2 separate regions of the Homo sapiens genome follow, and region 1 is linked to region 2. The links come from fine-mapping of genetic effects on gene expression. A gene starts in region 2. The other region holds a variant in brackets. All regions are shown on one strand. Distances are from middle to middle. Region 1 overlaps RUFY3 (RUN and FYVE domain containing 3). Region 2 holds the start of GRSF1 (G-rich RNA sequence binding factor 1).

The links.
Region 1: its variant is fine-mapped to the expression of GRSF1 in whole blood (INTERVAL, PIP 0.94).

What each region holds. Positions count from the first base shown.
Region 1 is chr4:70,731,944-70,734,857 of GRCh38, reverse strand. The region is part of intron 1 of RUFY3 (RUN and FYVE domain containing 3); the gene reads right to left. Among named protein-coding and RNA genes, the nearest start is that of RUFY3, 11 kb to the right of the region's middle. The variant T/C (reference allele first, on the strand shown) is at 1,717.
Region 2 is chr4:70,838,668-70,841,581 of GRCh38, reverse strand. GRSF1 (G-rich RNA sequence binding factor 1) reads left to right here and starts at 1,692. Exons shown (of 10, transcript NM_002092.4): 1 at 1,692-2,111. The coding sequence starts at 1,755. LOC124900710 (a long non-coding RNA gene) reads right to left here and starts at 2,590. Exons shown (of 3, transcript XR_007058131.1): 1 at 2,437-2,590. RefSeq lists silencers at 1,425-1,674, 1,735-2,284 and enhancers at 1,681-2,334, 2,335-2,914.

The DNA of each region.
Region 1 (2,914 bases), 110 kb after region 2:
ACTGTAAGGCACTGTGGTTAATGACAGTGCACTGAAGCCAACGCTAGTGCAAGAGTATCAAAGAGACAGGAAGAAACTGAAAGTAGTCCTGAAACAGGAAGGAAAAGCTGATTTTATGCAGAGTATGTTACGGTCAGATCAGAGGCAGCATGCACCTCTTTCGTGGTTTAGATAGGAACTGGCATACAAGTACAGAGCTACTGATATTTCTCACCCAGATTTAGAATTTTACAAAATCCTGGAAGCTAAGTGGGTAAAACTTACCTTGAAAGGGTGACTAGCCAGGTTATTTTCAGGGCAGAGCAACAAGAAGGGATGAACCGTGTCCAGAAAACTTTGTCCCATAGGCTTCTGAGACTGTATTAAAAGCTACAACCTTCTCACTTTGAGAAGTTCACTGAGACTGCCTTCTGAACACATAATCACAGCTCAGAGAACCTGACAGTGTAAATCTAAGGCTGACTGCACTGGTGGCAACAAATGTTTCTGTAATCTCACCAAGGGCCAATTACAAAAGGGGGTGTGCCACAGTGAAAGCAAAGAACAATAACACAATTCTGTGAAAAAGAGAATCCCAATGACTCAGGTTTTATTTTCCAAACACTTAGGAAAGGAATAAATCAAATGCTGTAAATGCTTCTAAATCTAGACACTGTGGGCCACCCCATACACTGCAAACAGCATTTAAACAGCTATGAAAACAGAGCATGCCAGTAAATAAACACAGGTCTGTGTTTGAAAAAAACCCAAAATAAAATGCCTAATAGAAATATTAAAAAATTATAATGGAAATTGAATCTAAAGCAGTAGCTCTGCTGTGAGGCAAATGTTCCCACTCACAGATGTGTGAAACTGTCATAGAAGGTACTGATATATAATACAAATATCTGTTGGATGGATGATTGCACACCCGTTAATTTTCATAAAGATTTTTCCTTTGAAAAAGGAACATTTGTTTTCATATTAGAGTAATATGTCCTCTTGTAGAATATTTGGGAGATATAAAGAAATATAAAGAATATTATAAAAATCACCCATAATTCCACTATCCAGAGATAATCAATTTTTATATTTTTGATACATTTCCTTTTACTTGTGTTTATGTATACCTATACTTAAAAAAATTGTGACTATAGTAAATATGCAGCTTAAGAGACAGCTTTTAAAGTTATATCCAAACATTACCCTACACATCAAATATTGTTCCACAATAATTTTTAGTGTAAGGTGTTCTACAACTTATTGAATAATTTTCCTCTTAGGCTATTTAAGTTGCTCTCAAGAGTGTGTTACAGGAAGTCAGAATACCGTGATAAATATACAGTACATACATAAACTTTTTGTTTGTATCTCTTATTATTTCCTTAGGATAGGTGTCTGGTACAATTACTGAGAATTAATTTTTTAAGGTCCTTGATTCACAATGATAAAATGATTTCTATAAAGGATGTACCAATGCACATTCCCACTAGCAGAGGCCCCAAGTCGTCCCATATTTTTATCAATACTACGTATTATTAAGATATATTTAAACAACAAATTATTACATTATTCTAAACTTATATTTTCCAAATAATATACAGTCGGTCCAGAATATGAGATAAACAATTAAAAATAAAGAAAACATTAGAAACCATAAATTAAATTGTGTGTAATGGAGGAAGACAAAATCCATTTTTCTTTCTTTCTTTCTCTCTCTCTCTCTCTCTCTCTCTC[T/C]CTCCCTCCCTCCCTCCCTCCCTCTCTCTCTCTCTCTCTCTCTCTCCTCTCTCTCTCTCTCTCTCTCTTTCTTTTGAAATGGAGTCTCACTCTGTTGCCCAGGTTAGAGTGCAGTGGCGCGATCTTGGCTCACTGCAACCTCCGCCTCCCGAGTTCAAGTGATTCTCCTGCCTCGGCCTCCCACATAGCTGGGATTACAGGCGCCCGCCACTGCACCTGGCTTTTTATTTTTTTTAATACTTTAAGTTCCGGAGTACATGTGCAAAACGTGCAGGTTTGTTACATAGGTATACATGTGCCATGTTGGTTTGCTGCACCCATCAACTCGTCATTTATATTAGGTATTTCTCCTAATGCTATCCCTCCCCCCAGCCCCCTACCCACCGACAGGTCCCCAGTGTGTGATGTTCCCTTCCCTGTATCCATGTGTTCTCATTGTTTGACTCCCACTTATGAGTGAGAACATGCGGTGTTTGGTTTTTTGTCCTTGTGATAGCTTGCTCAGAATGATGGTTTCCAGCTTCATCCATGTCCTTGCAAAGGACATGAACACATCCTGTTTTATGGCTGCATAGTATTCCATGGTGTATATGTGCCACATTTTCTTTATCCAGTGTATTATTGATGGATATCTGGGTTGGTTCCAAGTCTTTGCTACTATGAATAGTGCCGCAATAAACATACGTGTGCATGTGTCTTTACAGTAACATGCAAATCCTTTCTTTTAAAATGATTTTATGGAGTAATAGGGAATCACTGAGTTCACCAGAAGTTTGTTGGATATCTACGATAAATAGTACACAGTACCATGGGGCCTTCTGAAGAACGCCAAAGAAAAGGTTTGCCCTGAAGAACTTTCTATATAATTTCAGAAATAAGGAATCCCATGAATTAAATAACTGGGGAATGATTTCTAGCATATTCAAACAAATGTCCCAGATGCTAACCAGTGATTCAGGACATGAAAGGTGTGAGATCTGTTAGAGAAGGACTTGTAGATGAAGGGAGTCAGGGGTCCATTACCCTTCCTGATATAACACGGGCATGAAGAATCACAAGTCAGAATAGTAAAACAAAAAGAATAATCAGGATTTTACTGAAGCACAGTCTGACTGGAACAGGTAAGTATGTTGAAAAGGAGTTTGAAAAAACATTGAAAAAATCATCCAAAGAAGGGCATGAGAATGCTTGGCTAAAA
Region 2 (2,914 bases):
AAGTGTTGACAATTTATGAAGTTCTGGAAATTCATTCTGCTCTTCTGTTTGACATTTTCCACAGTAAGGAGTTTTTAAAAATACTAGCTTTCTCTTATTTTTTACTCTAACAACTTCCTTTTGCTTGTCTTTGACAAGTCCTGGCTCAGGAGGAGAAAAGCTGCACAACCAGTCTTTGTGTATGTGTGTGCAAATCTCTGTGTGTTCACTTGTGAATACAGTTTCATTAGGGGAGGGTTCACCTTTGTTATGTATTATCAGTACATAATAAATATATATGTTTTCTTTTATTTTTTTAGAGACAGGGTTTCACTCTGTCACCCAGGCTGGAGTTCAGTGGTGGCAATCATAGCTTACCACAGCCTCTACCTTCTGGGCTGAAGCAATCGGCCTCCCAAGTAGCTGGGACTACAGGCCCACGCCATCACACCCAGCTTTATTTATTTTTTGTATAGACGGGGTCTCCCTATGTTGCCCAGGCTGGTCTGGAACTCTTGGGCTCCAGTGATCCTCTCACTTCAGCCTCCCAAAGCGCTGGGATTATAGGCATGAGCCACCACGCCAGGCCTATATTTCATTTTAAAACAACGAAGTTCTCCTTCCTCACATACCTCAAATTCGGGGGGTACCAAATCTCTGATATTATCCCAACGATTTTTTTATAACCAAGGTATCACAATTCCTTTCAGAAAGGGTTCTTTAGCCACTCACACCACGGGTTTCGGTGGCACAGCGCAGGGCAGCACAGACTTGTGCTACAGCTCTCGGCCCTACCCAGAGCAGGATGGCCCTAACCTAATTTTTTTGTTTGTTTGTTTGGAGATGGCGTCTCACTCTGTCGCCCAGGCTGCAGTGCGGTGGCACGATCTTGGCTCACTGCAACCTCCGCCTCCTGGGTTCAAGCGATTCTCCTGCCTCAGCCTCCTGAGTAGCTGGGATTACGGGCACCCGTCACCACACCCGGCTAATTTTTGTGTTTTTAGTAGAGACACAGTTTCACCATGTTGGCCAGGCTGGTCTTGAACTGCTGACCTCAGGTGATCCGCCCTACCTCGGCCTACTAAAGTGCTGGGATTACAGGCGGGAGCCACCGCGTCCGACCTAATTTTTTGTATTTTAGTAGAGACGGGATTTCACCGTGTTGCCTAGGTTGGTCTCGAACTCCTGACCTCAGGCAGTCCACCCGCCTCTGCCTGCCAAAGTGCTAGGATTACAAGAATGAGTCACTACGAATGAGTCACTGCGCCAGGCCCCTAGCCTCACTTACTTTGGGCCTCAGTTTCCACCGCCTGAAAAAAGAGCAGTTCGATTGCACCCACTTCCCCGGGCCCCGCCCAAACCATGGGCAGCCCCGCCCAAACCATGGGCAGCCCCGCCCAAACCATGGGCAGCCCCGCCCAAACCATGGGCAGCCCCGCCCAAACCATGGGCAGCCCCGCCCAAACCATGGGCAGCCCCGCCCAAACCATGGGCAGCCCCGCCCAAACCATGGGCAGCCCCGCCCAAACCATGGGCAGCCCCGCCCAAACCATGGGCAGCCCCGCCCAAACCATGGGCAGCCCCGCCCAAGGGCGGAGACTGGGCGGAGCGTCGCGCTCTCCTCCACCTCCTTCCGACTCTCGGAGGCCCCCCACCCAGTGCCCGCGGCGCATGTGCCAGGCACACCCCACCCCCAACCGGCCCTGGATTCCACTTCCGTTCCACCATCGCTGCTGGAGCAGCTGCCTTCAGGCCCTGCGCCGCCTCCGGAGTCCATGGCCGGCACGCGCTGGGTACTCGGGGCGCTGCTCCGGGGCTGCGGCTGTAACTGCAGCAGCTGCCGGCGCACCGGCGCCGCCTGCCTGCCCTTCTACTCCGCCGCTGGCTCTATCCCGTCGGGCGTCTCGGGCCGCCGCCGCCTGCTGCTGCTGCTCGGGGCCGCCGCGGCCGCTGCCTCCCAGACGCGTGGCCTCCAGACCGGGCCTGTGCCTCCCGGGAGGCTGGCGGGGCCTCCCGCTGTGGCCACCTCTGCCGCGGCCGCGGCCGCCGCGTCCTACTCTGCCCTCCGTGCCTCTCTGCTGCCGCAGTCGCTGGCGGCGGCGGCCGCCGTCCCGACGCGCAGCTACAGCCAGGTACGTGGGCGCCGTGAGGGACCTGGCGCGAGATCCCTCCCGGGCCGCGTGCACGCGCCCCCGCGCCCCTCCGTCCCTCCGTGTGCGCCTCGCGGGCACGCCCGGGGATCCGCGACACTCGCCGCACACCCGCCCCCGTCCACCCTGTGCTCCTATTGGGCCCTGGAACAAGGGAAGCTCTCCCAGGCGTCGGGTCTTCTGCTTGTTTTGTTCTCGCCTCGAGTCTCTGGTCGGTTGGGCAGTGTAAGTGTGGCTGGGGTGAATGTTGAGGCCTTGTTCCCCGCCTGGCCCATGGTAGGTTTCGTGAGGCTGCTGACGCCCCCACCTCGCATCTTCTTGCTTTCCGCCGGCTGGTTGTGAAGTTGCGAGGCCCGAGCCCGCCGGAGGGTTGGGAGTTTCCGTGCAGCCCGAGCGCTAGGCCTGGGCGGCCCTCGGCGCCTCTCGGTCGGCCGCTGCTGGGAAGGTGCGCGCACACAGTTGCGTGGGCTGGCTTGTAGGGAAGGAGCCTGTCCCCATCGCGCCGTTCCCTCTCCTGTCCCCAGGGAAAGACGAGCTGTCCCGGTTTACTGAAGGTCACCTCTGCAACTCCACTCATACAGAAGGTCTTTAAGGACTGTGTGTCGCCTCGTCTGGGAAAGCAGTTTGGAGATTTAGCTGTTGGGGGGAGGGGGTGAATGGGAGGGAGCGTTGAGGGTTGAGGACACAACTTGGGGTCCCAGGAATGAATTTGCAATGTTTTCCTTTCCATTTTTTCTTTATTTTTTTAGAAAAGTCGGTGTGTAGTTAGATTGCAAATATTTTGT